3 separate regions of the Homo sapiens genome follow, and regions 2 and 3 are each linked to region 1. Evidence: fine-mapped expression QTL. A gene starts in region 1. Each other region holds a variant in brackets. All regions are shown on one strand. Distances are between the middles of the regions. Region 1 holds the start of CENPW (centromere protein W). Region 2 has its middle 45 kb from the start of CENPW. Region 3 has its middle 100 kb from the start of MIR588.

What was found. PIP is the estimated chance that this variant, and not a neighbour inherited with it, causes the effect.
Region 2: its variant is the best candidate, but not a certain one, in a credible set for the expression of CENPW in subcutaneous fat (GTEx, PIP 0.55).
Region 3: its variant is the best candidate, but not a certain one, in a credible set for the expression of CENPW in B cells (Fairfax 2012, PIP 0.78).

What each region holds. Positions count from the first base shown.
Region 1 is chr6:126,332,469-126,342,990 of GRCh38, forward strand. CENPW (centromere protein W) reads left to right here and starts at 7,647. Exons shown (of 3, transcript NM_001012507.4): 1 at 7,647-7,931. The coding sequence starts at 7,806. RefSeq lists enhancers at 7,537-7,806, 7,817-7,866.
Region 2 is chr6:126,379,256-126,390,073 of GRCh38, forward strand. It overlaps a transcript of CENPW not described here. Among named protein-coding and RNA genes, the nearest start is that of CENPW, 45 kb to the left of the region's middle. The variant C/T (reference allele first, on the strand shown) is at 4,394.
Region 3 is chr6:126,581,322-126,592,139 of GRCh38, forward strand. It overlaps the pseudogene RNU6-200P. Among named protein-coding and RNA genes, the nearest start is that of MIR588, 100 kb to the left of the region's middle. The variant G/A (reference allele first, on the strand shown) is at 5,093.

The sequences.
Region 1 (10,522 bases):
AACTATCACAAGGACAAAAAAACAAACACCGCATGTTCTCACTCATAGGTGGGAATTGAACAATCAGAACACATGGACACAGGAAGGGGAACATCACACTATGGGGACTGTTGTGGGGTGGAGGGAGGGGGGAGGGATAGCATTTGGAGATATACCTAATGCTAAAAGACGAGTTAATGGGTGCAGCACACCAGCATGGCACATGTATACATATGTAACTAACCTGCACATTGTGCACATGTACCCTAAAACTTAAAGTACAATAATAATAAAATAAAAAAAAAAGAAACTGATTGGCTCATGAAACTGCTAAAAAAAGATCAAACATTCATTACATCAACTTGAATAACTGATAAAAATAATAATAATTTTTATTTGAAGCATTGCTTGTTATTTACTTAAATATCTTTTCCAGATTTAAGAAAATTTTGTATCTAGAGTAATTTATACAGCAATTTGGTAAAGAATACTTCTGTGAATAAAGGTGGAGACATTTGCTTTTCCTTTCTACTTGGTTCCCCCCAAATTTTGAAACCACTGGTGAGTATTCTTATGGCACTATAGTTACTTGTATAAGTTCAATAAAAAATCTGCTCTCTCTTTATAACAAGATATGATTGGAAATGTTGGTTATGTTACCAAGGTTTTTACTAAAGCGTCATATTTGAGAATATGCATAGAATACCTCATTTCAAGGGTTCCTAGGCTTACAGTGAATGAATAAAAACTGTCACTTTTTGGCAGGTCCAGAGATTGTAGACCACGAGTTAAATCTAAAGTCTACCTTGGTTTGGCTTCCTATCCCAAAGAGGTTTTAAAATCTGATTCCTATGTTATCAATATGGAAAGAAAAACTTACATTTCTAAAGAAAAGCTATACTACATCTGTTATTAGATTGTAGCTTTGCACATTGCTTTCAAGTTCTTGTTATCTACCTGTAGACTAGACTAGATCCTAAATTCTTCTAGTTTCCTCCAATCCAATTTTCTTCCATAGAATTATTTAAAAGAGAAACTACTCTCTTCTTGAAGCCCTATAAGCTGAAAGTAGATGAATTTTAAGGAACAAGTCTCATGCCTAATGCATGGGTTACACAGAAAGTTTACCCTACTACCTGACACTATAGCCAGAGATATTCAAACTACAAAGAAACACAAGAACTTTATATTTTCATGCTCTAGACAGCTTTTCCAAGATGATGGAAAATGGCTCCATATCATAATGAGACTTTAATTCCTTTTAATGCCTAGTTTTTTCACTTGGAAGACAACGGTCATTGATTTATTTAAACTGGTTGCCTTTAAGCCTAGGTTTGTGGCTCAATACCATTACGCAAACTGAGACTGTCATATTAATACTAATTTACCTGGTATTTCCCCCTTTTAAGCTGTGTATCTGTTACTTGTTAAATTTGTGCAGCAATACAAGTACTAACAGAATAAAGCTGATCCAGCACTTTGAGATGATAGCAAAAGACTATGGAACAGACAAAAATTGAACTTAATAATGGACCACAGGCTTAGCTGGAGAGCCACTCTCTTTAAACCTTTCTATTGTTCAAATCTGGCTAAATGGATTTTGAAACTGACTTTTAGTAGCCATTCACTCCCTCCAATGTGGGACCAGACCTATTGGTATCTTATACCCAAGATAAGTCCATCCTGGCACCATGGGACAATCAAAACCGAACTACAGGATGATTTATCAGCAGTGCTTTTAGACAAAGGTCTTGATTAACATTGGGAAATATAAAAGTTGTTGACATCAAAATGGACTCATTCATATTTTTAAAAAATGACATATTGCGCTGGGATGGTGGCTCATACCTGTAATCCTAGTGACTTGGGAAGCTGAGATAGGAGGATCGCTTGAGGCCAGGAGTTCAAGGCCAGCCTAGGCAACATAGTGATACTCTGTCATTAAAAAAATATTAAAAATTGGCTGGGCATGGTGGTGAATGCCTGGAGTCCCAGCTACTTAGGAGGCTGAGGTTGGAGGATCACTTGAACCCAGGAGTTTGAAGCTACAGTGAGCTATGATTGTGCCACTGCACTTCAGCCTGTGTTGACAGAATGTGACACCATCTCAAAGCAAGCAAACAAACAAACAAACAAGAAAAACACCTGACAAATAGAGCTGGGGAAGGTCATGAAGTGGAGTGGGAGAGTCATAAATGCCTTATAACAAAAACTATCACAAAAGGGTCTGCAAAAACCATAACTTTGCACAAAGGCCATTGCAATCTTACAGAAAAAATACTTCTGCAAGGACATCTGCCCAGCATCTGCCTGTCCAACCTCAGACTGGCACCATAGCCAAGGTTCATTGTCTCAAAACAAGTAATCCTCTTCATGTTTTCTTTTAAAGCCCTTGTCTTTCTTGGCCAGGGACGGTGGCTCACACCTGTAATCCTAGCACTTTGGGAGGCTGAGGGGGGCAGATCACTTGAGGCCAGGAGTTCGAGACCAGCCAGGGCAACATGGCAAAACCCTGTGTCACATAAAAATACAAAAATTAGGCCTGGTGGTATGTGCTTGCAGTCCCAGCTATTTGGGAGGTGGAGGCAGGATAATTGAGAATTGCTTCAACCTGGGAGGCAGAGGTTACAGTAAGCCATGATGGTGCCACTGCACTCCAGCCTGGGCAACAAAGCAAGACTCTCTCTCAAAAACTAAAACCAAAACCAAAACAAACGCCTTTGTCTTTCTTTACTTCTCTCAGTACACACAAATTTTACTATGGCATGCATACTCCCATTACAATGCCCTGTTCCTGAATAAATATTATTTTTAAGAGAACGTCTCTCTCTTTGTTATGTAGATTGACAATGTGATGATGGAAACAAAGTTAGAGTGATGTGTTTTTAAGAGGGAGGAAGGAACCATGGGCCAGTGAATGCAGGTTCCCTCTAGAGGTTGGAAAAGGCAAGGAAACAGTCTTCCCTAGAGTCCGCAGACAGAATGCCACACACTAACACCTTGGTTTTAAGACTTTTGATCTTCAGAACTGTAAGATAAGAAATTTCCATTGTTTTAAGCCATAAGTTTGTGATAATTTGTTACATTAGCAAAAGAAAACGAATACATATGACAACATGTATCTCTATTACTCTCTTAATAAATGTTATTTGTCTCCAATTCTATTATAAATAAAGCTACAATAAAATTTTTCTCTGTGCAGAAGCAAACATTAGATGGCAAAAAGTGTTACAGAGAAAAATGAACCACAGAGAGAGGGTTAGGGATTTAAGCCATTAGAGATATGTGTAATTTATTTTGGTAATTCATTAATAACTTGCTTTTCAGAAATAACAACCACAACAATAATAATATCTGAATTTTGGCGTTTGCCAAATTCCATGCTGTAAGTACACATACCATCACCAGTTTCTAGCTACCAACATAATACTACTGAACACAGAGCTGGGATGAGATCAGATTCTGCGCATGACTGGGTATGTATATGTATGTGTGTACATGAGCTTCTAGGCATATATATAGTTACATGTGTTTCTATGGTAAACAGAAGGTTTGTCTGATACTTGTCAGAGCAAAAACCTGAAAGAGGTGATGAAGCCACCTATGCAGATAAATGGGAAAAAAACATTCTTTTTTTCTTTTTTCATTTGAGACAAAATCTCACTCTGTTGCCCAGGCTGGAGTGTAGTGGTGCCATCTCAGTTCAGTGCAAGCTCTGCCTCCCGGGTTCAAGCAATTCTCTTGCCTCAGCCTCCCAAGTAGCTGGGATTACAGGTGTACGCCACCACACCCAGCTAATTTTTGTATTTTTAGTAGAGACAGGGTTTCACCATGTTGGCCAGGATGGTCTTGAACTCCTCACTGCAAGTGATCCGCCCACCTTGGCCTCCCAAAGTGCTGGATTACCGGCCTAAGCCACCCCGCCTGGCCAAAAAGCATTCTTAACAGAGGGAATAGTTAGTGCAAACACCTGATGGGTGTGTGAGTGTGTTGTGTTGCATGTACTTGAGGTCTGTCTGAAATATATTATCTTAGTCTGTTTGGGGTGATATAACAGAAATAACATAGATTGGGGGCTTATTGTCTAAGTTAATTTTCTCTTGCTATTACAGAATACTTAAAACTGGGTAATCTATAAGAAATGAACTTTATTTTTTTCAATTCTGGAGGCCAGGAAGTTAAAGGTGAAGGGGCTGCATCTGGTGAGGGCCTTCTTGCCAGTGGGGGCTTTCTGTAAATTCCTGAGATGGTGCATGGTATCACATGGTGAGGAGGCTGAGCATGCTAATGTGTTAGCTCAGGACCCTCTTCCTCATCTTATAAAGCCACAGTTCCCGTTCCCCTCCCATGATATCCCATTAATCCATTAACCCGTGGAGGGACTAAATATTCATAAGGACATAACCCTTGAGACCCAATCACCTCCTAAAGGTCTCACCTCTCAATACTGCCACATTGTGGATTAAGTTTCAGCGTGAGTTTTAAAGGGAACATTCAAACTATAGCACTTATAAACAACAGAAATTTGTTTTTCACAATTCTGAAGGATGGAAAGTCGGAGATCATGGTGCCAGCAAAGTCAGGTTCTGGTGAGGGCCCTCTTTCGGGGCCCATAGATGGTGTGCCTTCTAGCTATGTTCCCACCTGGTGGAAAAGGGAATGCAGCTCTCTGGGACCTCTTTTATAAGGACATTAATCCCATTTATGGGGACTCTGCACTCATGACATAATCATCTTCCAAAGCCCTTATCTCTTAATATCAGCACATTATGATTAGATTTCAACATATGAATTTTGGGGGGACAAAAACATCTGGACCATTGAAGATATTAAGGAGACTAACACGGTGGAGAGTGAGTTGCTCCATTGTAGAAGGTAAGTAAGTTAATTATGTATTTGTAAGTGCATGTGCATTTGTAGGGGGGCAGGTAAGGCCTCAGGTCATTATAGGGACTTTGTTTTTTGATTTTAAAGGAGAGAGGAAACAACTAGTGAGTCCTGAAATGACATAATCTGAATTAAATTTAGCTCTTCTGTTGAGAAAGAATAGAAACAGATTGAGACACTCTCAGGAGGATGTTGCAATAAGCCATGTGAATGATCGTGTCCAGGCCAAGTGTAGTAGCAGTGGAAGTGGTGAGATGTGATCAGATACTGCAAGGAGAACTGACAGGATTTGCTGAAAGATTGAATATGGGGTGAGATAAAGAGAGGCGCTAAGGCCGATTCCAAGATTTTGGCTTAAGTAATTGGAAGGTTGGAAGTGCTAGCACATAAGATAGGTAAGAGACTGGGAGAAACATGTTTGGGGAGCAAGGGCAGATCAAGCCCTAATTTTTGACATGGTGTTAGGATGACTTTTAGAATTCTAATCCATCAGAGAAATGGATATACATGCCTGAAGTTTAGGGGAGAATCAGCTGGAGATGTAAATTTGGTATTTAAAACCTTTATACTGGAGAAGATCACATGGGGTATGAATGTAGATAGAGGAGAAATCTCAGGATGTGGTTGTGGGGTACTCTAAAATTTAGAGATCAAAAAGAAAAGGAAGAACCAGAAAAGGAGACTGAGGTGCTATCAAGTACAAAGAAAAACAAAAGAGAATCATATCCAATTAAATATGTTGTTTTATGGAAGGAAAAATCATGAAACTCAACAAATACTTCTGGTTTGATGAATAAACTGAAGCCTGAAAATTGGCCATAGGATTTGCAACTATGATGCTATTGGTCACGTTGGCCAAAACAATTTTGGTGAAGAGATAGCTAGAAAAGTCTGATTGTACTGGATTTAACAGAGAATAAGCGAAGAGTATTTGGAGACACTGAATTTAGCCAACGGTTTCTAGTTTTGTTTTGTTCTGTAGAAGGACAACAGCAAAAGGTAGGATTAAGAGAGGGTTTTCAAAAGCCTGGAGATATTATAAGCTGTGTGGGTGCTGATGGAAAAAAATTGGCAAAGAAGGAAAATTCATGAAGCAGAGGAGCAAGGAGAATTGCTACAGAAATGTCCTTAAGAAAGGGGAAAGGGCTTGATCTCGGGCACAAGTGGAGTAGTTGGCATCTCATCCATGGGAGCAGGTGGAGACTGATGGATAGATGGGGTGGTGAAAGCATACAGAAAGTCTCCATGGATTTTTTTAAATTTTATTTTGTTGTTGAAGCAATGTCATCACTGGAGATTGAGAATGGGGTAGGTAAGAAATAGAAGGCATGACATAGCTATGTAAGAGAATGAGTAAATGAATGAATGGCTTTAGGAAATATCAAAGGATTGTAGCAGTACTTAGAGCCCACATGAGTGGTCATGAATTTGAATTGAGATCAGACATATACCTGTGAGTGTTGTTTTCTTATGCCAATATTAATACACAGATACAAGTGTTGAATAGATTGAGATTTTAACTTAAGCAGAGTTGGAATATTGCCAGGTTAGTGTGAGGATAAAAGAGAATGGCTATAAAGTTGTGGAGAAATACAGGGCAGTATTATGATGATCGATGCATAATGGACTACAGGAGGGAAGATAAGGCATAGAGTGGGGTGGCAGAGCTGGGGGGTGTGGTGAGAGGAACTGAAAAAGATAGGACAGTAGTCCCAGTAGCATCGAAGAATTGTTGGAGGGAGTAAATTCAAAAGATAGAAGATACGGTTGAAGAGAGACAACTAAATTGAAAGTGGCAGATCAAACCGAAGGTAAAGGTATTTAGTAATGACACCGCCTAGGGTATGACCACATGCATGAATAACTCAAGGGTGTAGAAGATGACTGGCAGAGAGGAGGTCTCAGAAATGGGAGGCCAGATAGTAGAAGGATCACTTGTGTGCGTGAGATCACAATAACATAATATTGAAATCTCAATAGAGATAGTATTAGAGATAATTATAATTAAAATCACAGCGGATCTCAAAGATTGGTCTGCAGACTAGCAAATGCCAATGTCCCTGACTTGTTAGAATTGCAAATTTTGAGTATCTCCTAGATCTAGTGAATGAGAAACTGGGAGCTGGGCCCTGCGAACAGTAGTTTAACAAGTCCCCCAGGTGATTTTGATGCACATTAAGGTTTGATAACTATTAATACTTCTATAATAGCACAGATAATAGAGAAATTAACAGCTTGAAGAAATAACAAAAAGTTCAGTGAGTTAGCATGAAACTATACCTGAAAGTTATTGCAAGGTTAAGTGAGAGGAACCTTAAAATTAAAGGGAGCAGCATTTGTAAAGAAAAGCTAGAATCATGAAAAGACCTAAGATAAGATCAAATGAAATTACGTAGAAGTGTAAAATTCTTAACTGTTAGTATCTGAAAATCATGCATTCCTTGCTAGGAAGGCATGGCATTAGTGCTGTCGGAATCCTGATAAAACATCACAAACTTCTGTTCGTTGGTATTAGGGACAGTATAGAGTGAGTGCTTGAAGAACTGCCTTGGCTTACCAATCTCTCTCTCCACAACTTCCAATCATCTCTAGGGAACCTAGCAGAAACACTTCCACAGAGCAAAAGTTATAATACAGAAAGTGATGAAAGGAGGACGCAGGCTCTCAATGACGTCAGGTATTCCCGGGACCCGCCCACCGTGGGCGTTTTCCACCTACAGGCAGGCGTCTCCGGGGGCGGGGCTTGCTCAGGGTTAACGTCACTACTGAGCGCCGGGCGCGTTCCGTTGGCGGCGGATTCGAACGTTCGGACTGAGGTTTTTCTGCCTGAAGAAGCGTCATACGGACCGGATTGTTTTCGCTGGCCCAGTGTCCCCGGAGCTTGTGTGCGATACAGAGAGCACCTCGGAAGCTGAGGCAGCTGGTACTTGACAGAGAGGATGGCGCTGTCGACCATAGTCTCCCAGAGGAAGCAGATAAAGCGGAAGGCTCCCCGTGGCTTTCTAAAGCGAGTCTTCAAGCGAAAGAAGCCTCAACTTCGTCTGGAGAAAAGTGGTGACTTATTGGTGAGATTCCATCCCTTCTCGGGCTGGGAATGGGGCACGGGAGAGGTAAGGGCAATAACCTTAAGCCTTTGTTTTTCCGCCCCGAGCCAATTTATAGCTCTTTCAGGCCCCTGTTTAAGGCAGTTCCAACAATGACAGGGAACGTATGCCCCACCCTGGCATGTCAGTTCATATTCCTGGCGCTCAGTTGTACCGGGCCGCGCCGAAAAGTAAATATCTGGATCTTTTTAAAGGGAGACTGTTAGTCACATGAGCTTAACGTACAGTTACTGCTTACAGTTTTAAATATTGCTGTTTAGGAACACAATCTGGCACCGTGATTAATGTACTTGCAAAGGGTATGAAAGAATCACCCTTTAAAAAATAGATTTTGGAATTCAGTCTGGGTCATTTTTATTTAGCTATTGTAAAAGGCATTGCTCACATGCCTTTTAAGGGCCTCCCTTCTTGCCTCCCTCCCTGTCTCCTCTTTCCTCCCTTGGCTCCCTCCGTCTCTCCTCTATTTACGCATTTAACCAAACATTGCCTTATTTCCTCTAGGTGAGGGTGCTTACTAAAGGACCCTGATGGGAAAGTTTATTTGTAGGAAGAGTCCTCTCAACTGTTAATTCATTTCGCTAGACAAGTAATAGAACACCTAGTCAGTTTTTAAGCTAGACTACTAAAGCCTGCTTATCTGACCCATAATACCTGAAGCATAATGTTCTCCTAATAAGAAGCCCCAATCAAACCACTGTATAATAATGTTTCTGTCTTGAAATAAATTCAGTTTGTGTGTTGAATACCTGGAACACATATTCCTCTGGCACAATGAACACTATTTCTCTAGGTTTAAACCACTGGAGGCATGTTCGGTAGCTTGTCCTTGGCTCTTTGAGTAAAGGAGCCATTATAAATGGACACATAATTTCCAGGAGATCAAGGTACAGAATTGTGGATAATAAGAGCATACTGCATGAATCATCCTAGCTGTTCTTAAACGACATTGGTTTTTCTACCTCCTCTTTACTCTTTTGCTTCCTGGACTTCTCCACTGCCACCCCATCTGTTGCTTCCTTTTCTAAACTACTATAGAATTATCGCCCCTTTCCCCTTATTTGGTCTCTGAAGCCAAAACACAACAAAAACACATTTTCCCCCAGAAAAGTATTACTTCTATCTTCTGCCCTTATTTTTGTTACTTTCTTAAATCTTGTAAGAAGAGGCAATACAGGCTGTCTTGTGCCCCGACCCCAATTAACTATCCCATGCTGGTGATAGAGGTGGCACAAATGAACGGAATTCAAATGAAATTCACTTGCAAAACATTTTTACGTAGTATATTATGGAGCTTTCACTGGGGCTTCTAAATGGAGGGAGAGGAAATGTACCTGATCAAAGATATCCAAGAGACCACTAGCTGGTGCAAATGGCTTAGTGGAAATTCCTCAGGTAGTCAGCATCCTCCCACATCTACCCCTTTCTTCCTCCAAAGAACCCATGGACAGAGGGGCTCCATAGTGCGGTGGGATCCAGGTGGCATGGGAAAGTGGGTGAGTTGAAATTTCAAGCGGTTGCATTGATGGGGTATAGAATGTTCTTTTGGTCAGTAGCTTTTCCCAGGTAGTATGCTCGTCGTGTTTGGCTTTCATTAAACAGTTCGCCTTCACTGTCTTGAATGTGGCATGGATTACCCTGGTTTCTTTATAGCTTTCTGCTCACCTTTGACACTTCATATCTTACCCAGTTCAATGAGTTAGCAAAAAGTTCAATGAATTAGCATTAAACTACACCTGAAAGTTATTGCAAGGTTAAGTGAGAGGAACCTTAAAATTAAAGGGAGCAGCATTTGTAAAGAAAAGCTAGAATCATGAAAAGACCTAAGGTAAGATCAAATGAAATTATGTAGAAGTGTAATTCACTTGCATCCCACATCATCCACAAAGTTTTCTATAGTTAAAGCAGTTTGTTTTGATCTGCTCTTTTTTCTGAACTTGGACAGCAGTAAGAGTATACATCATACAGTTGAGCTATTGGGACTCTTAACACTGTTGTCTAGGAGTTTTCATATGCTGATGTTTCCTAGTGTGGTATGCAGCTTCTTGAGGAGAATGAATATCTCCTTTTCTGTCTCCCATTATCTTTAACACAGAATTAATCTACTTTTATGCTGCCTTTTGTACATGGTATTTCTTCTGCTTGAAGATGTCTTCACTCTACTTGGCAACCTACAATTTTTTCAAAATCCAGTTCAAATGTTACTTCAGTGACGCTTTCCTTAATGTCCTTAGAAAGGATCAATCTTATCTTCTTCTCCATCATCTATTGTCACACATTTGCCTTTTTCTTTATGGGTTTGATTCTGCCACTAGTCTGGGAACTTGAATTTGGAAATTTTTGTATTCCTGGTGTTTTGCATAATAGCTTCAACATTCTGAGTCTACAATTAATTTTGGAAATGCATGACAACTATGTGGATTGATGTCATTTCTAGCATTTTATTTATAATTTCTTTGTGTTATTTTATTATTCTTCACTGGCTTTTTGTTATTTTGTTTGTTTTATGCCTTATTTGATTGTTTAGCCCCAGGGATGGTACTAGGGAGAGAGTT
Region 2 (10,818 bases), 47 kb after region 1:
GTTTTCGTAATCCCAGGAAATAATTGTTTCTTTTATTAAGAAATTTTAAGATTAAATTTTAAATTATGAGGTGAAAGCTTTTTTCTTTAATATATATAAGGCATTCCTTCATGGAAAATGGCTAAATTTATTGGAAGAACACTAGAGGAAATCTTACTAATACTTGAGTGTGAAGCCTATGTTATACATGCTTTGGGAATAAAGGAAAGATATTGGCCTCCAGGGCTGTCAGCCTGGCCCTTTAGGTGAATTTAATGCTCTTAATTTTTATTATGCTGCTAACCCTCTGCTTCCCCTGAAACCTACACTGGTTTATTCCAACCAATGTGGTCTGAATCCCATCCAACATTTTACTAATATTTATCAGTGCTAAAGTTAGTATTCTTGATAAGTCAAAGTTGTTGCAAATCACTTCCAGTTGTACAAATACACTATTTACGTATAACTGGTAAAAACTCCATGCTGTCATTAAATGAGTTGACATGTTCATATAATTACCTGGGCCTGGAGTCCGAGTATGTGTGATTATTCTGGAGAAAGAAAAATCAAACGAATTAAAGTATAATTCCATGAAAAGTATAATCTTTGACAGCTATAAAAGTAGGCATTTTCCAAAAATGTGTTTCATTTTATTGCAACAACTTTTATTTTTCTCTGTTTCTTTTTATAAAGTTCCCATAAATTGTCTGAAGCTTGGATGAATTTAAATATTTCAATCAAGGTTTGGCAGCTGATAAATTGAATCAAGCTTCATTACCAGTTCCAAATTACCCATCCAGATTAAGTTCATGGGTTGTGCCACCAACCCCTAAAGTTCATCACTAAAGTGACTTGCCAGGGGAATTGCTTGTGGCACAACTCCAATTTGGAACAGAGACTGGAAGTTGATTTAAGCTCGGGAGCAGAAGCAGAGTGGGAACCAAAGTCCAAGCTGAAGCTGGAATAAGGCTGCCATAGTACTGAAACATATCCTTTTAGATTAACTGACTTGCTTTCAAATTGTGTATTGAATTGAAAGTAATGGGAACCAAAGTCCAAGCTGAAGCTGGAATAAGGCTGTCATAGTACTGAAACATATCCTCTCAGATTAACTGGCTTGCTTTCAAATTGTGTATTGAATTGAAAGTAATGAGAACTCAGATCTGGTGTTGACTTAACCCTGAAATTCACCTATGACCTTAGTAATGAGCAATGGCTCTGCTGTTGTGTGTAATGTTGTTCATGGCAGAGGGTTTCCCTGTGCTTTAGGTTGAGCTGTCCCAGTTGTGGAAAGGCTGATGAGAGGTTGCTAAATTCTACTCTAGCATGTGAATCTTGTCTCTGGTATCCCCTTGAAGCCATGGATAGGGGGCACCCACTGTCTTAACTCTAGCTTATCACATAATGCATAGTAGACAAAATAAAAATATTTTATTTGCTTATTTATTTAATACATATTTTTAAAGATCCTATTGGGCATCAAGTATTCACAGTAAATGGCAGTGACCTCCACAGACATGATACCTGCATCATGAAAGTTGCAGTTTAAAGTTTGTCAAATTTATTTTTAAAACTTTGTTTATTTTTTCCTGAAATAATAACAATGACATAGGAACCTTTAAGAGTCACTGTTAGTAATGACAAAGATTCTCTGTTGATCGAACTTTAGCCAGGATCTGAACCTTCTCCTAGGCGTGTGTTTGTACTTTCTTGTTAAATCCAGTTTTAGCAAAGAACCCTGCTAAGACAGTTTGGCAAGAACCTCCCACCCTTGATATCTGATCACTCTCAACGTTTGATCAAGTTCTTTATCCTCCACCATTCCCCAGGTGATGTCTAACTACTCTGGCCTGTCTTCAGCAAGAATCCCCCTTACCCCAATTCTCCTCCACGGCCAAATCCTGTTGCTGTAGTCCCTCAGTGGTCCTTAATGAATCTTCCTTAACATGTTTTAACAAGTATTGTTGAATGTTTTTGTTTTTGTCTAATGATGATATTTATTCTTTTTGTATATGTTGTCTTAGGACCTTTACTGGCATCTGAGTCACTTCTGTTGTTGGCAGCAGTATCACCCTTATTACTAGGCAAGAGAACCTTAGCCTTGGGCCTCACATTTCTTTAGAGATCTAGTTGATGACTAGATATCCCAAATGCATGCATATACACTTTTATTAAACTATATGTGAGCACCTACCTCTGTTACTCATGATCCAGTGTCCAGCTCTGTTAATGCAACCAGTAACCTTAAATATCCTGAACATCCACTGTCAAGACTAACATTGTTCAAGCCCCAGGGAAATGCTTTTCTACTTTTTTTGCCCTGTGTTCTTGAAACAAAAGCCAACATTATCTGAACTCTCACCTGGAGCCTGTCATCTCAGCACCCTCTAGCACCCTGCCGCCAGCCAACCAACATGCACCTTGCCGCACTGCTGCTGCTGCTGACACGTGAATAAATATGGATCCCACTGTCACTGCCCTATGAAGGGCTTTGGCTGGCACCGCCCATCATAGTGTTGTGACCAGTGGTCCAAGAGCATCTTGGTCCTGCTAGTGCAGCAAGTTCCTAACCTCGAGGAGTCAGAGCACAAAACCAGGGCTCAGTACCAGTCCCCTAAAGTTAGAGCACACAGTTCAGAAGTCCTGAGCTGAACCTTGGCTCCCTAAAATCTTCCAGAAATGAAGCCAGTCGACTGAACCCACCTCAGAGCGCAATTAAACCCTGAAGGTGGCTCACACCTGTAATCCCAGCATTTTGGGAGGACAAGGCAGGTGGATCACCTGAGGTCAGGAGTTTGAGACCAGCCTGACCAACATGGTGAAACCCTGTCTCTACTAAAAATACAAAAACAAAACAACAATAACAAAAAACCCAGGTGTGGTGGCACATGCCTGTAATCCCAGCTGCAGGAGAATCACTTGAACCTGCGAGGAGGAGGTTGCAGTGAGCCGAGATCGCACCATTGCACTCCAGCCTGGGTGACGAGCGAAAATCCATCTCAAAAAAAATATATATATATATACCTTGAAGGTCATTAAATGGGATTAAAAAATATCTAAAGGACAGCAGCTGCAAAGAGTGAAGGCATATAAGCCCACAAAAATGAGAAAGAACCAGCACAAGAACTCTGACAACTCAAAAAGCCAGAGTTCCTTCTTTCCTCCAAACAATTGCACTAGCTCTCCAGCAAAAGTTCTTAACTGGGCTGAGATGGCTGAAATGACAGAAATAGAATTCAGAATATAGATAGGAACAAAGATCATTGAAACTTAGGAGAACGTTGAAACCCAATCTAAGGGAGCTAAGAATCACAATAAAATGATAGCTGACAGAAAAAAATAGCCAGTATGGAAAAGAATGTAACTGACCTGATGGAGTTGAGAAACACACCACAAGAATTATATAATGCAATCACAAGTATTAACAGCAGAATAGACCAAGCTGAGGAAAGAATCTCAGAGCTTGAAGACTAATTTCTGAAATAAGATAGTTAACAAGAATAAAAAAAATTAAAATAATGAATGAAACCTCCAAGAAGTATGGGATCATGTAAAGAGACCAAGTCAACAACTCCTTTGTGCCTCTGAAAGAGATGAAGAGAATGGAAGCAACTTGGAAAATACATTTCAGGTTATCATCCATGAGAATATCCCCAACCAAGCTAGAGAGGCCAACATTCAAATCCAGGAAATGCAGAGAATTCCTGCAAAACACTTCACAAGAAGATTATCCCCAAGACACATAATCTTCAGAATCTATAAGGTTGAAATGAAGGAAGCTGCTAAAGAGAAAGAATGGTTATCTACAAAGGGAAGTCAGTCAAACCAACAGCAGACCTCTCAACAGAAATTCCACAAGTCAGAAGAGATTGGGGGCCTATATTCAACATTGATAAAATGAAGAGAAATTCCAACCAAGAATTTTATATACAGTCAAACTAAGCTTCATAAGTGAATGAGAAATAAGATTCTTTTCAGACAAGCAAATTCTGAGGGAATTTGTTCCCACCAGAAATGCCTTAGAAGAGCTCCTGAAGAAGTACTAAATATGAAAAGAAAAGATCACTACCAGCCACTACAAAAACACACTTCAGTACATAGACCAGTGACACTATGAAGAACCACACAAACAAATCAGCATAATATCCAGCTATTCACTTGATGACAGGATCAAATCCACACATACCAATACTAACCTTGAGTATAAACAGGCTAAATGCCCCCACTTGAAAGGCACAGAGTAGAAAGCTGGATAAAGAAACAAAACCCAATGGGATGCTGTCTTTAAGAGACCCATCTCACATGCAGTGACATCCATAGGCTCAAAATAAAGGGGTGGAGAAAAATCTACCAAGGAAATGGAAAAAAGAAAAAAAAATCAGGGGTTGCAATCCTAATTTCAGACAAAACATAC[C/T]GTAAACCAACAAAATTCAGAAAGGACAAGGGCATTACATAATGATGAAGGGATCAATTCCACAAGAAGACCTAACTATCCTAAATATATATGCACCCAACACAGGAGCACCTGTATTCATAAAGCAAGTTCTTATAGACCTGCAGAGAGACTTAGACTCCTAGACAGTAATACTGGGAGGCTTTAACAACCCACTGACAGTATGAGACAGGTCATCAAGGTAGAAAATTTACAAAGATATTCAGGACCTGAACCCAACAAATGGACCTGATAGACATCTACAGAGCAACAGAATATAGATTCTTCTCTGGTGCACATGAAACATACTCTGAAATTGATCACACAATCAGACATAAAACAATCCTCAGCAAATGCAGAAGAACTGAGGTCATAGCAATCACTCTCTTGGACCACAGTGCAATAAAAATAGAATTCAAGACGAAGAAAATCACTCAAAACCATGTAATTACATCAAAATTGAACAACCTGCTCCTGAGTGACTTTCAAGTTAATAATGAAATTAAGGCAGAAATCAAGAAGTTCGTTGAAACTAATGAGAGCAAAGATACAGCATACCAGAATTTCTGGGACACAGCCAAGGCAGTGTTAAGAGGGAAATTTGTAGCACTTTTAAAAAATTTATATGGAACCAAAAAAGAGTCTAATAGCGAAGGCCATCATAAGCAAAGATAGCAAAGCAGGAGGCACCATGATCCCCAATCAAACTATACTATGGAGCTACAGTAAACAAAGCATCATGGTACTATTACAAAAACAGACATATAGACCAGTGGAACAGAATAGAGAGCCCAGAAATAAGACTGCACACCTACAACCATCTGATCTTCAACAAAGCTGACAAAAACAAGCAATGGGAAAAGCATTCCCTGTTCAATAAATGTGCTGGGATAACTGGTTAGCCATATGCAGAAAGTTGAAACTGGACCCCTTTGTTACACTATACAAAAATCAACTCAAGATGGATAAATTCTTAAATGTAAAACTCAAAACTATAAAAACCCTGGAAGACAATCTAGGCAATACCATTCTGGACACACGAACTGGCAAAGATTTAATGATGAAGACAGCAAAGCAATCACAACAACAGCAAACACAAATGGAATCTAATTAAATGAAAGATCTTCTGCACAGCCAAAGAAACTATCAATAGAGTAAACAGACAACCTACAGAATGAAAAAATCTTTGCAAACTATGCATCTGACAAAGATCTAATATCCAGCATCTATAAGGAACTTAAATTTACAAGAAAAAACAACCCCATTAAAAAAGTGGAGAGAGGACATCAACAGACACTTTTCAAATGCGTACACACATTTGGTGGAGAAGCATATGAAAAAAAGCTCAATATGAATGATTATTAGAGAAAAGTAAATCAAAACCACCATAAGATACTGTCTCATACCAGTCAGAATGGCTACTATTAAAAAGTTAAAAAATAACAGGTGCTGGCAAGGTTGCAAAGAGGGAATACTTACACACTTCTGATGGGAATGTAAATTAGTTTAACCATTGTGGAAAGCAGTGTGGCAGTTCCTCAAAGAGCTAAAAACAGAACTACCATTCAACCCAGCGATCCCATTACTGGGTATATACCCAAAGAAATATAAATTGTTCTATCATGAAGGCATGTGCACACATATGTTAATCAGAGTGCTATTCACAATAGCAAAGACATGAAATTAACCTAAATGCCCATTAATAAAAGACTGGATAAAGAAAATGTGGTGCATATACCATGGAATATTATGCAGTCATAAAAAAGAACAAACTCATGTCCTTTGAGAGATACTATTACTTTGGTTGATGCAACAAGGAATAAATGAGGAAATATATTACTTAAACTTTATGAAAGAAGACTAAATATTGCTTATTCATTGATATAGTTAGGCTTTGTGTCCCCACCCAAATCTCATCTTTAATTGTAATTGCCATAATCCCCACATGTCAAGGGAGAGATCAAGTGGAGATAATTGAATCATGGGAGCCATTTTGCCCATGCTGTTCTGATAGTGAGTGAGTTCTTATGAGATCTGACAGTTTGATAAGGGGCTCTTCCCCATTTGCTTGGTACTTCTTCCTGCTGCCTATTCAAGAAGGTGCCTTGCTTCCCCTTCGCTTTCTGCCATTATTGTAAGACTGAGGTTTCCCCAGCCTTGCTGAACTATGAGTCAGCTAAACCTTTTGTCTTTATAAATTACTGAGTCTTGAGCAGTTCTTTATAGCAATATGAAAACAGATGAATACATTCATATTGAAAAGAAGGAGGAGAAGAGATTAGTTCAATAGGTAAGCTAAACTTTCAGATAACTAGAATTCAGTTGGTAATGCCTAAAATTCATAAACCAAGAGAGTATAAATGTATTCTTTTGAAATATAGAATATTATAACAGGTAAAAGGAATTATCCTTCGGAGTGAGTTTCAAGATTAGTAGGAGTTATTTCAAACCATTCTGTACAATTTTATCTTTTTAGATATGCAGACGATCTAATTAATTTTCACTTGGCCTTCTGTCATTTGACAGTAAGAGCTCAAATCTAACCCATATGGTCAGGTAGGAAACAAAGGCTACTTTCTTTCCCACTTGTAACATCTACCTCAGTCAGACTATTTACTGTCTTTCAGTTATAACACAAACTCCCCATGTGTATAAATGGAGGGAGAATATCTCTGTGAGGGAAATGTTGTCAATCTGCTGCCATGTTCCATCCTCGCACCAAACTAGCAGTGACTGATCTATAACTCATATAGTAAAGTGCACTATTAAACATGCCCAGTACTATTTAACTATATCAGTCTCCTTGCTTGGAATTTAATGGTCATCAGTTGCATTAGTCAATTTTTATTGCTCTTTGAATTATGTACACTGCGCCTTCTGCCATTTTAATGGGTTTGTGTTTCACAGATTGGCACAGATTAGGGTTTATATCTTTAAAGAGATGAAATAGTTGTGCAGTGTACACTAGAGAAACAGTCTCCAAACTGACCAGCTGCTTTGCTTTCAAATAATTTATTTTTTTATTCAACACCCTTTTTTATTCCCCCTCCACTGCCCTACAAGTTAGCTTCTTCCAGGTAGGCACTAGGGGCACAAAGATGAATAAGACATGAACTTGATACTAGAAGAACACATAGTCTAATTATAGTAAATATATTTTATCTTGATAAGTACAATAATTGGAATAAAGTAGCATGGGAGTGCCAAGGTAGGAAGAAATATAATTAAAAATTACATTCTGTGCCCTATTAAAGCAGACTTTTTGGAGTTTAGTCCATGTAATACCATTAAACATCACTAATTTAAAAATAATTTACTACAAATAAATTAGTTATTTTTAAATGACTGAGTGATTTATTTAGAGAAACTAAGTTAGAGAGTTAACTGACTAGTGAAACAATAAATCTAGAGTATAAATCCTTAATTTTGATTATAAATTAACTAAGAGATTTTCTAGTTTTTCTTTTAATAAATAAATTCCAAGCCTTTCTACTTTTCACTGAGAACTTGTCCTAACTCATCTTTACCTTTATTGTTATTGTTATTATAATCTTTTTTTGGATATGAAATCTACATATCTGCAGGCCAGATCACATACTAGCTACTCTCAAAAATAAATCACAATGAAAAGTGTAAACTCTGAAGTAAGAAAGAGTGATTAGAAGTATTCATTAAGTATAAATGTGGTGTTTCATATACGGCGTAGCTTGATTTTGGAAATTATATCCCAATTTCACGGAGGAAAGTTGCCATTTTTTAAACTGTGGTTTTCTAAAAAGCCATAGTAATATTTTTGCCATCCTCTCTATTATATGCCTTTCAAGTGCAATTAGTATATTTATCATTTCCTGAATTGGCTTCTGAAGACAGAAAAGAAACACTTCCTACCTTAAAATTTTAAGCCTAACTGCAATATTGTATGGGCAGATGCAAAGAAGACATGAATCAGTCGATATAATTAATTTGTTTCAGCAAGGGGTTAAGTGTCTTCCTAAATCAGTAACTAAGAGGTTTCTACCGATTATTGGGTTTACATAAACCGCTTTGAGGTTACCAATTAGTAACAGGTACACTTGTCAAAATGCCTAAATTAGTTTCCAAATCAGAGGATAGACTTGATCAAGAATGATAGTTTGTATATAGGCCAGAAAAACTGCCCATGTCCACTTTCCAAAGTGCCAACTGCATGTGGTTTTCCCTTACTACTCTAATGGAATCCTGAATTCTAGACCTTATGAAACATACTAGCCAGAGCCCGACTGACTTCTAGTAAAAAGAATTGAGTGTAAATAATATTTATGGCCTTGCAGACTATTTGGCTGAATCCACCTTAAAAGATAGCTTCATTCTGCTTATACAACGTTTCACCATATACAGTAGCACAAAAGGACACTCAGACCAAGCCAAAAAGAAAGACAAAAGTGTAATTCACCAAGGAAAGAAATGTATAAAGGAAGGTGACTAAACTGAGACTTCATACAACTGTTTATTTGTCATAAAACCATCTATGAGCTAAGATATAAGCATAAACATTAAGTGAATGACAGTTGTTTTATTGTGTTTTCAACATTTTTAGTTGTATCTTAAAAAATACCAGATGCTATTCATATGATGCCAAACATATGGCTTTTGGCCGTGCTCTTGTAATCTGTAGTAGATTGCTATAATGTACAGGGCAGGGGGAAAAAGGCGATTTACAGATAGCACCGGCCTGAGTCCCTCACAGCTGGATCTAATTTTACTGAACTGATGGTCTCTTCCCTCCAGCACCTTCTATTTTATCAAATGCCACATATTGTTTTTGAAGTGGTTCTTGTTGTCATAGTGAATACCACAGATGGATAACACACAGGACATTTGGTTGTCAGTTTTCTGACTAAGGTCAGGACCTACTGTTCATGTTTGGGTGGAGTATTTATAGGACTGCCCAAGGAAACTAATGAGTTTCAGCTGTCTGAGAGAATGCATGGGACGTTGCTTACTTGGTTGATGTACTTGGAGGCCATTATAGTCATTTGGGCTTTAGGTGTGTCTTTCTATCAGTTGGTAAACTGACATTTCACTTGGAAAGAAGATGAAAAGGGTAAGAAAGAGAATGAATACATGCTAATAATTATTTTATTGCATTGTGATTGCCTATTTACTTTTCTGCCACTCCTACTAGATTTTAAGCTTCTTGAGGGTAGAACACTTCTTGTTTAATATCAAATAGTGTGCATGTAGCTCTTGGGCTGGTACATAATAGGGGCTGAAATATCTAATGAATGACTAGATGAAAAAGCAAGCATTCAAAGGGTTTCCATAGATTTGATGATTATGGAGGCAGAGGATAAGTAGTCAATGAAAAAATTGTAGATCTCATTCTGTTTCCTAATTTTTCCCCAAGACTTAATTTTTAAAGATCCATCTCTGTTGTTCTTTGAAACAATCTGTTTCTTCTAACTGTAACATAATACCCTTGTATGCATTGGCTACCTTTTACCTATCACTCTCTAACTGATGGACACCAAGAATGCTTCCAACTCACTTCCAACACAGGATAATTTCTAACTATCTCTACTGCTGCCATGACACAGATGTGGGACCACATAGGAGACAATTGCTATCTACAGTTGCAGATGAATTGGTCACATTTTTAAATTTTACTGTAAGAGTACTTTGTTTTTTGTTAATAGGAAACGTTTCCAAAGGTTTCTACCTCCTTAGGCTTCCTTTAGGAAATGAGGCACTGATTTCTCCCAAACATTTCTTGGGATTCTGTTGTTCAAAACTGCCTTCTCTAGTTATGTCCCTAGAGAGAAGAATCCTTTTCTTTTCCATTTCTGCAACTCTGTCTCATCCAGCCTGTGAATACTAGTTTACATTGTCAGGGCAATCAAGCTACACACACACACACGCGTGCACATCCAGTTGTCTTCATGGCTTTACTTTTTGAGTTCCATAATACTCAGCTCTAGCAAATCAAAACCCTTGTTATCTATGACCTTTGCTCTGTGTGTGTGTGTGTGTGTGCCTTCCTCATGGGGTAGAAAACCAGGAATTATGTAAAATCCAGTTAAGACCTCTAAATTTTATTCCCACTATATATACATTATCTAATTCAGTGTACATAAATATTTATTTTATAGATTTAGAAGGTGAAACTCAGCTTAAATAATGTGCCCAAGGTTTCATAGTTAGTGGAAAAGGACTTTCAAATAAAAGTTTGACCCGAAATGCCCAAATTCATTTCACTCTGCTACAACACTGGCCTGCAAGTAAAATGCTGCTGCCACAAATGCAAGTTATGATATATGTGTGCATTATAATGACACATACTAGTCTTTGTAGCCACATTTTCTCACAGAGGTGATTCATTTTTTAGAATTCATAGGGAAGGACAACATATTTCTGCAAAAGCCAGAAAG
Region 3 (10,818 bases), 250 kb after region 1:
CAAAACTAACAAATCTCATCCACTGATTCCTACAGTGGTGCTTTGTTTCCCTCCCTCCTTCTCTCCTTCCCACTCTCTTTCTCTCTCACCTTCCTTCCTTTCCTTCCTCTTTCCTTTTGTTTTTCAGCTCACTTTCTTTCTCTCTCTCCTTCCTTCCTTTCTTCCTTTCTTTTTCTTTCTTTCTTTTCTTTCTTTCTTCTTTCTTTTTCTTTCCTTCTCTTTCTTTTCTTTCTTTCTCTCTTTTTCTTTTCTTTTCTTTCTTTCTTTCTCTTTCTTTCTTTCTCTCTTTTCCTCTCTCCTTCCCTCTCTCTTTCTCTCATATATATGAGTGATGAAGTATACATAGCACTGAAGTGTATATATATACACATATCTATATACTTTACATCATGAAGTATATATATATGAGTGATGAAGTATATATATACTTGGTTATATACTTAGAAGATATAATGAATTTTATCAAGTTGTGGTATTAGCTAACATTTTGTTGCCTAGTACATTATTTATTAGGTATTACACATGTCTAATAAATAGTGTTTCTGATTTCTTGAGTCTAGATTGTCTTCTTGATTGAACCCCTCCTCCTCCTCCTCCTCCTCCCCCTCCTCCTCCCCCTCCTCCTCCCCCTCCTCCTCCTCCTTCTTCTTCTTCTTCTTCTTCTTCATTTTTTTGTGCATTGGCTCTTTCAGTCCAAGTCTACAGTTCTATTATTTTATTCCCTTATGATTCATAGTTTTTAGTCACGGATGTTCTAAAAACTTATTTTTCTTTTTTGTCAGCTTGCATTGGGCTCTCCACACTCCCCAACTTTTGTAATAAAGCCTAAGTGCCTTAACTCACTGGTAATTGCAGACTTTTGGAAACAGTGATAGATAAAATCACAAAACAGACATGCTATGCTTGAGTTTAAGTAAAAAAGTTAACTGGGAAAGTACTTTTTATTTACCTTAAAGCAGTATCCAAAATAGAAGAACTGTATTTTTCTTCATAATTCTTCTGTTTTAAACTCATTAGTTTGAAGCATAGTGTTTTGTACTTTAAATCAATTCATTATGTGTTAATACTTTCCCAATGTGTGGTTAAGGACAACTGACTATTCGATTTCTCTTTCCTCATTGCTGGCTCTTTCGCACTAGCTTTTGCTGATACCTCTTCTCTCTGACCTCTACATTTTACAGTGTTCTAGTCTCAGTCCTTTTGCTCTCTTCTCTGCTGTCTTCATTTGCTATTTTGTCTCATCTAGTCTCATGGTTTTAAACATCCTATATATGCTAACAAATCCCAATAATTTATCTTCAGCATAGTCTCTGTCCTAAACTGGATTTTATATTCAACTGCCCATTTATAATCTTCCCTGAATTTCAACAGGCATTTAAACCCAATAATGAGCTTCTGATTTTTTCCTCATAAAACCAGTCCCACTCTTTCCTTTCTTAGTATGCATTGACTCAATCCTCCCAAGTTACAGTCCAAAAAATACCTTGGGATTCACTCTTGATTCCTCTTTTTCACACTTTGCAGTCTATCCACCTGCAAATCTCTTCAGCTCTATATTAAATATTGTGTATGTTATACTCTAGTGTTTTCTCATCTCTTCCACTATTTCCACTTTCATCTCCTACCTGGATTACCACTATAATCTCTAAGCAGGTCTCCTGGCTTATACTCTTGCCTTTCTACTACTGATAATTAACAAAAGTGCTACAGTGAAGCTTTCAAAAATGATATCATATAGTGCCATTTCTCTACTCAAAATTGTCACATGGCTCACTATTTCACTGAAGTCCTACAATGGCCTATAAAATCCTTAGCTGCATCTTCATGTCTTAGTATTTACATCATAACCTAAAAGTGATGAAGTTTTAAAATAAGATGTGTAGCTGGGGGCATATTGCACAAATACCCTCCAGCATTATATGTAGGTAGGCAAGATGAATATATGTATAATTATATAATTAATATAATTTTAAAATATAAAAATCTTATTGGCTAAGTTTTATGTGAACTAATACATATTGGCTAAGTTTTATGTGAAATAATACATATCATTTTTATTACTTAGCTTTTGTTTATTTGAAATTTTATGCTGTTTTGTGTCAGCTCTTTAAAATAGGATTTTTTTCACCTTCAGGCTCTATCAGTAGTTGCATAATTTAACCCGGATAAGCAGCCCCTTTTTCTTCTTCCTTTGTCCAAATTATTCATATAATTAGAATAGTGATTAATATATCTCCTGAATTTCTCAGATTGGATAGAAATTTGAAATCCATCAAAATATTTTCAACTTCATTTTTACTGGCATAATTTTCTCTTGGTAATATAACTTAGATAAAACAATACAGATCTTCAGCAACCTCCTAAAAGCCATCAGCATCTTTCTATAAAAATCTGTAATTCCGGGGTCGTTTTCTGTTTAATGTTGTCTAAGTAAGTGACTAAGTGAATCACTTCCCTTCTCAGAAATAGTAGTGGTTTCTAATTCTCTATTATCTCAAATACAAAGCCTTTAAATTAATGCACTAAAGACCACCATCAGTTGATTTTTCTCTTTGAACTACCCTATTTACCTTTTAACTTTCAACTCAGATTTTCTAGTATGTGTAGGGAAAGCCATCCATCCTACTTTCTGTTCCTTGCACACAAAACAATTCTCCTCAGCATTTAAATTCATCTAAGTGTTCAGCACTGCACCTAGAGTGAAATCCAAGCTTATGTTTTAGTTATAGAGCTCCTCAGGATCCATGAGTGCCTACTCTCCTTCTTAAGTTTTGACTAGCCTACCCATTACAGGCTTTCTCTTCCTCAAAATATGCCACAATCATTTCCCCCTTTAGTTTTGCCTTAGCATTCTCTTTGTCTGGAATATCATTCCCTAATCTTAACAGCACTAGTAGATAATAGTTATTTAGCAGACACTATTTGCCAGACATGCTTATAAATTTTATATATATATATATACGTCTAAATATATGCTTCTAAATTTTATATATAACTTCTAGCAGCCTGGATAGATAATATTGTTTTGATTTCACAAATAAAAAATAATAAACTGAGGCATAGATACCTAAGCATCTTTCCAAAGATATACATTTGGTACAGATTTGGGAGTGGAATTCAAGTAGATGCTTCAAACCTGGGAATTTAACTAATACACCATACTGTGTGATATTCACATGCCTGGCAACACCATTGATATCACATTCTCCTAAATATAGTTTCTGCCACTAGGAACCTTAGAAAAAAATCTTTATTTCTATGAAGTCCATTTTTACCTGTATTGAATTTATGAATCTAAATGTTGCCAAAGACTTTACTATATCTTACATTTTGGTTAATAATAATGTTAACTTTTTCATTTTTAGCTATTGCCAACTTTATTTTGTATTGAATTATTTCTAGTGGTTAAAGCGTGCTTTGGATTCATTTGGTTTTTATAGATTTAGTGAGTACAAGTGTTGTTTTGTTACGAGGATATGTTGCATAGTGGTCAACTCTGAGCTTTTAGCATAGTCATCAGCTGAGTAATGAAAATTGTACCCATTAAGGAATGTCTTATCCCTCACCCTGCTCCCAACCTCCCACCCTTCTGAGTTTCCATTGTCTATCGTTCCACTTTCTATGTCCATATGTACAAATTAGCTCCCACATATGAGACCACGCAGTATTTTCTGAGATATCTCACTTAAAATAATGTCCTTCAGTTTTATTTATGTTGCTGCAAAATACATGACGGCTGAATAGCACTCGTGTCTGTACGTGTGTGTGTTTGTATGTGTGTGTGTGTGTATTCAATAACTTTATCCAATCATTCATTGATGGACACTTACATAGATTCTGTATTCTTGCTGTTATAAGTAGTGCTGTGATAAACAAACAAGTACAGGTATCTTTTTGATATAATGATTTCTTTTTCTTTGGACATATACCCAGTAGTGGGATTGCTGGACTGAATGATATATTTATTTTTAGTTCTTTGAGAAATTTCCATACAGTTTTCCATAGAGATTGCACTAATTTACATTCCCACCAACCATGTACAAGTGTTCTCTTTTCTCCACATCCTCACCAACATCCATTATTTTTTTCTACCATTTAATAAGTGACTGATGTAAGATGGTCTCTCAAATGGGATCTAATTAAACTAAAGAGCTTCTGCAAAGCAAAAGAAACCACCATCAGAGTGAACAGGCAACCTACAGAATGGGAGAAAATTTTTGCAATCTACTCATCTGACAAAGGGCTAATATCCAGAATCTACAATGAGCTCAAACAAATTTACAAGAAAAAATCAAACAACCCCATCAAAAAGTGGGCAAAGTATATGAACAGACACTTCTCAAAAGAAGACATTTATGCAGCCAAAAGACACATGAAAAAATGCTTATCATCACTGGCCATCAGAGAAATGCAAATCAAAACCACAATGAGATACCATCTCACACCAGTTAGAATGCCGATCATTAAAAAGTCAGGAAACAACAGGTGCTGGAGAGGATGTGGAGAAATAGGGACACTTTTACACTGTTGGTGGGACTGTAAACTAGTTCAACCATTGTGGAAGTCAGTGTGGCAATTCCTCAGGGATCTAGAACTAGAAATACCATTTGACCCAGCCATCCTATTACTGGGTATATACCAAAGGATTATAAAACATGCTGCTATAAAGACACATGCACACATATGTTTATTGCGGCACTATTCACAATAGCAAAGACTTGGAACCAACCCAAATGTCCAACAATGATAGACTGGATTAAGAAAATGTGGCACATATACACCATGGAATACTATGCAGCCATAAGAAATGATGATTTCATGTCCTTTGTAGGGACATGGATGAAGCTGGAAACCATCATTCTCAGCAAACTATCGCAAGGACAAAAAACCAAACACCGCATGTTCTCACTCATAGGTGGGAATTGAACAATGAGAACACATGGACACAGGAAGGGGAACATCACACACTGGGGCCTGTTGTGGGGTGAGGGTAGCGGGGAGGGATAGCATTAGGAGATATACCTAAGGTTAAATGACGAGTTAATGGGTGCAGGGCACCAACATGGCACATGTATACATATGTAGCTAACCT[G/A]CACGTTGTGCACATGTACCCTAAAACTTAAAGCATAAAAAAAAGATGGTCTCTCATTGCGGTTTTAATTTGCATTTCTCTGATAATTAGTGATGTTGAACATTTTTTTTCATCTGCTTCTTGATCATTTCTATGTCTTGTTTTGCAAAATGTCTGTGTGTGTTCTTTGCCCACTTATTAAGCAGTTAATTTGATTTGTTATTGTTGAGTGGTTTGAGTTCCATGTAGATTATGGATATTAGTTTTTTGTACGATGTATAGTTTGCAAGTATTTAATCCCATTCTGCAGGTTATTGGTTCACTCTGTTGATTATTTCTTTTACTATGTAGTGCTTTTTAATTTAATTAAATCTCATTTTGTCTATTTTTGTTTCTGTTGAATTTGCTTTTGAGTATTAATCAAGAATTCTTTCCCTAGACCAATGTCCAGAAGAGTTTTTCCTAGGTTTTCTTTTAGTATTTTTATAGTTTCAGGGCTTACATTTAAGTCTTTCATTCATCTTGAGTTAATTTTTGTATATGCTGAGACATAGGGGTCCAGTTTCATTCTCCTGTATATGACAATTCAAATTTCCCAGCACTATTAATTGAATAGTGTGTCTTTCCCCAAGTGTATGTTTTTGATAACTTTGTCAAAGATCAGTTGGCTGTAGGTATGTATGCTTTATTTCTTGATTCTCTATTCTGTTCCCTTGATCTGTGTGTCTACTTTTATACCAGTACCATTCTGTTTTGGTTACTATACTACTTATTATATGACAATAGCCTTGTAGTATAATTTGAAGTCAGGTAATGTGATGCCTTCAGCTTTGTTCTTTTTGCTTAGGATTGCATTGGGAATTTGAGCTCTTTTTGGGATTCATATAAATGTTAGGATTTTTTTTTCTAATTCTGTGAAAGACAACATTGGTATTTTGATAGTTATTGCATTGAACCTATAGATCATTTGGGGCAATATGATAATTTTTAACAATATTGACTCTTCTAATCCATGAGCATGGAATGTTTTTTCATTTCTTTGTGTCATCTGCAAGTTATTTTATTTGTGGGTTTTAGTTTTCCTTGTAGAGATATTTCACCTCCTTGGTTAAATATATTCCTAAGTGTTTTATACTGATTTTTTTGTAACTAGTGTAAATGAAATTGACTTCTTGATTTGCTTCTCAGCTTGATCATTATTGGTGTACAGAAATGCTACCAATTTTTGTATATTGATTTTTGTATTCTGAGACTTTATTGAAGTCATTTGTCAAATCTAGGGGTCTTTTAGAGGAGTCTGTAAGCTTTTGTAGGTATAAGATAATAACATCAGCAGAGATAATTTGACTTTCTCTTTTCCAATTTGGATGATTTGTATTTCTTTCTCTTGCCTGATTTCTCTGGCTAAGACTTCCAGTACTGTGTTGAATAGGAGTGGCGTAAGTGGGCATCTTGTTTTGTTCCAGATCTTAGAGGGGGATGCTTTCAATTTTTTCCTGTTCAGTATGATGTTGGTTTATCTTACATGGTTTTTATTATTTATCATATATGGTTTTTATTATTTTGGGTTTATCATATATGGTTTTTATTATTTTGAGGTATTTTCTTTCTATGCCCAGTGTGCTGAGTGTTTTAATCATGAAGAAATGCTGAATGGTATCAGATGTTTTTCTGCATCTATTGAGATGATCATATGAATTTTGTTTTTAATTCAGTGTATGTGGCAAATCAAATTTGTCGTTTTGTAGCTATTGAATAATCCTTGCATTCCTGGAATAAATCCCACTTGATCATGGTATATTGTTTTTTTGATGTCCTGTTGGATTTGGTTTGACAGTATTTTGTTGAGGGTTTTTGCATCTATATTCATCAAGAATACTGGTTTGTCATTTTGCTGTTTTTGTTGTTGTTCCTGTGTTCTTGTTTAACTTTGGTATCAGAGTGATACTGGCTTCATTGGATGAACTGGGGAGAATTCCCTCCTCCTCAATATTTTTGGGAGACTTTCAGTAGGATAAGTATCAGTTCTTCTTTGTTATGTTTGGTAGAATTCATCTGTAAATCCATCTGATCCTGGGCTTGTGTTGGGAGGTTTGTTTTTTACTGCTTCAATTGTACTGCTCATTATTGATCTGTTCAGGATATATATTTCTTCCAGGTTCAATCTTGAAAGGTTGCATATTTCCAGGAATTTATACATTTCTTCTAGATTTTTTAGTTCGTAAGTGTACAGGCATACAGTTCTTCATAGTAGTCCTTGATATTTTATACTTCTGTGGTATCAGTTGTAATGTCTCCTTTTTCATTTCTGATTATGTTTATTTGAATTTTTTCTTCTCATAGTTATTCTAGTTAGCAGTCTAACAATTTTGTCTATATTTTCAAAAAACAATTTTACATTTTGTTGATTCTTTGTATTGTTTTGGGGTCTCAATTTCATTCATTTATTTTTTTTGATTCTTGCTTTTATCTTCTGCTAGCTTTGGGTTTGGTTTGTTTGTTTGTTTTCTAATTTCTTGAGGTAAGACAATAAGTTGTTAATTTGTGATCTTTCTAATTATTAATGTAGGTAATTAACACTGTAAACTTTCATCTTAGCGCTGCTTTTGCTGTATCCCTGATGTTTTGGTATGATGTGTCCCTGTTTTAATTTATTTTGAAAGATTTTTAAATTCCTCTCTTAATTTCATAATTGGCCCAAAGATCATTCATTTAATTGTTCAATTTTAATGTATTTATGTAGTTTTGACAGTTCCTCTTTGAATTGATTTCTAGTTTTATTCCACTATGATCTGAGAATATAGTTGATATAATATCAATTTTCAAAAGTTTATTGAGACTTGTTTGATGGACTAAATTATGGTCTATTTTGCACGATGTTTCATGCACTGATAAGAAAAATGTATATTCTGCATTTGTTGAGTAGCATGTTCTGTAAATGTCTTTTGGATTAATTTGGTCTAAAGTCCAATTTAAGTCCACAGTTTCTTGGTAGATTTCCTGTCTTGATGTGTCTAGTGCTATCAGTGGGCTGTTGAAGTCCCCTACTATTATTGTATTGCTGTATGTCTCTTTCTTTAGGTCTGGTAATGTTTGTTTTATGAATCTGGGTTATCTGGTGTTGAGTACATATATAGTTAAGATTGTTATATATTCTTGTTGAATCAAACTCTATCATTCATTATCTAATGGCCTTGTTTGTCATTTATTTTTTTACTGTTGTCAGTGTAAAATCTGTCTTATCTGATATAAGTATAGCTATTCCTGCCTGCTTTTGGTTTCTGTGTGTGTGGAATATCCCTTTCCATCTCTTTACCACCACCCTATGTGTCTTTACAAGTAAGGTAAGTTTCTTGTAAGCAGCATGTAGTTGAATTATGGTTTGTTTTTAATCCATTCCACCAATTTGTATCTTTTAAGTGGTGCATTTAATCAATTTATATTCAAGTTGATAAATATATATGTGAATTTATTTCCTGCCATAATGTTCATTGTTATCTAGTTGCTTTGTAGATTCTTTGTTTCTTTTGATTTTTTTTCTGTTTTTTTTTTTTGTGTGTGTCTTTATGGATTTGTGGGGTTTTGTAATGTTTCCTACTTGCTTTCTTCATTTCCTTGCTTTGTGTAATTTTTAAATAAGACCTCTGAGTTTTATATTTTCATGTATTTTTATGATGATGAGTGTCAACCTTTTATTTTCCATGTTAAGAACTCCTTTGAGCATTTCTTGTAAGTTTGGTCTAGTGATGATGAATTATTTCAGCGTTTGCTTGTCTGGGAAATACTTCATTTCTCTTTCATTTATAAAGCTTATTCTGGCAGGATACAAAATTCTGGGTTGACAGTTTTTTTTTTCTTTCAGCACTTTGGAAATAGAATCCCAATCTTTTCTGGAAAAATATAGAATGCTTCATGAATTTGTGTGTCATCTTTGTGTAGGGGCCATGGTAATCTTCTCTGTATCATCACAATTTTAGTATATTTGCTGCTGAAGTGAGTAGTACTTTGAATTTAATAAAGACAAATCCTGGGCAAAGACCCTTGGCCAGGTAACCCTAAAGAAGCTTCAAGGATGATAAGCTCAACATACCAGGTCAATTCTATGAGACTGAAAATGTTGTTTCATCTAACTTCTACAAATTTTTCAAAATAAGAATGGAATATTGTGAGGTTTTTAAGAATTACTTAGTTCATATTATTTTATATTAAATAATGCATTGAACATTAAATATTTTATCCTTTCTAAGTTAGTATCATTTCCTTCACAAAGCTTCAAAAATACATTTAAGTTAAAGAGATTTTTGTTCTTCAAATTACTTAGGGGTATTATGTCTCTTCCAATTTTACACAAGTAGATTTTGATAAAGTGACATTGTATTATTGTAGCAATAATAAAAATAAAAAACAATAACATGAAGTTTTAGAAAAGCACCAGTGCAAATATATGTGAACTATTATTGAAAAACCAATAGGAAAAGGTCAATAACTGAGGAATCAATTTCATGTGGAATAATGTGAAATGCAAAAGGAATCAAGACTTGGATGCGATTTCACTGATTTTTATCATAAGGGCTTCTCTTATTAGATGTTTTAAGAGAAAGAGTCAAGCTTATCCAATAATCCGTTATGTAAACTTAAATTTAAAAGAACACACTTTTGGAGATATAATTAAATATTACCACTTAACTAACATAACCACTTTATTGAATTTCCAAACTTGAGGTGCAAGCATGAAGCATTATTCTTTCCCCTGTAATCTTTACCTTTGACTATGGCATGGAGACTCTTCATTTTCCATCTTTCAATTACACCTTGAGAGGATCCCGTAGCTTTATCGTCATTTAAAGGCATGAAACAATCTAATCCAATTCTGGTTTATCCAGCTTAAAGTTTCAAACTCATATCCCTTTTTTCCTAAATTCAAACCTGACTTTGGCCCAAAAGCCACTTGTAGGTAGCAGTGAGGGCTGTTCTTTCTTTCATCCTTCCCTTCCCCTTCTGGGTCCATCTTTATCCAGGCATAGAGAAAAGTAGTTCAGAGAGAGAGCACACTCCCTTCTCTATTGATTTTTCTTTCCCTCCTTCTTAAGCCCTCTTTGTGGCATGTGTTTAAATAGTGGCATTTTACATGTGTCATGGGTTGGTTCTTTAGAGACACCTTTGATAAATTCTTTATCATTTGCAAATAAGGAAGATTATTTTCTGGCTTTACGTCTTTTGAAGAATTTCTTAGATGGACTCTTCTCTGGCTCCTCATCCTTACACACTTGCCAGGATCTCTTGATAGAATACCAAGCAGACATCTAAAGCACAGTTACTTCCTTATTGTCCACTGGGCCATGATGAGGCACAAATCTACTGCCACCCAAAGAAATGAGAGTGCACTGGCCTCACTGCAGCTCTTTCCATACACAACCCTCTCTCTCCACTCTGCCATATACCTCAAGTTTTCTACCCTCCCTAAACCCCTCCCCTGCTTCAAATGTACAAGTGCAGATTAGCAACTCTGTTGTATAAACAGATATCTAATCAGTAAATTAGATAACTGTTTTCATTGTAACCAAATTATGCATGTATATAGTTCCAATATATGTCCTGAGATATCGCTAATCTTTTCTTTACATGTGGTGGTGGAGACTACAGTTAGGGTAGAATAGAGTTCTGCTGCTGTTTAGTATGTCTTGTACAAATGCATCTGGTGGTTTTTTTTTTTTTTTGTAATCTGACTCAAATGTTCTTTTTGGCTG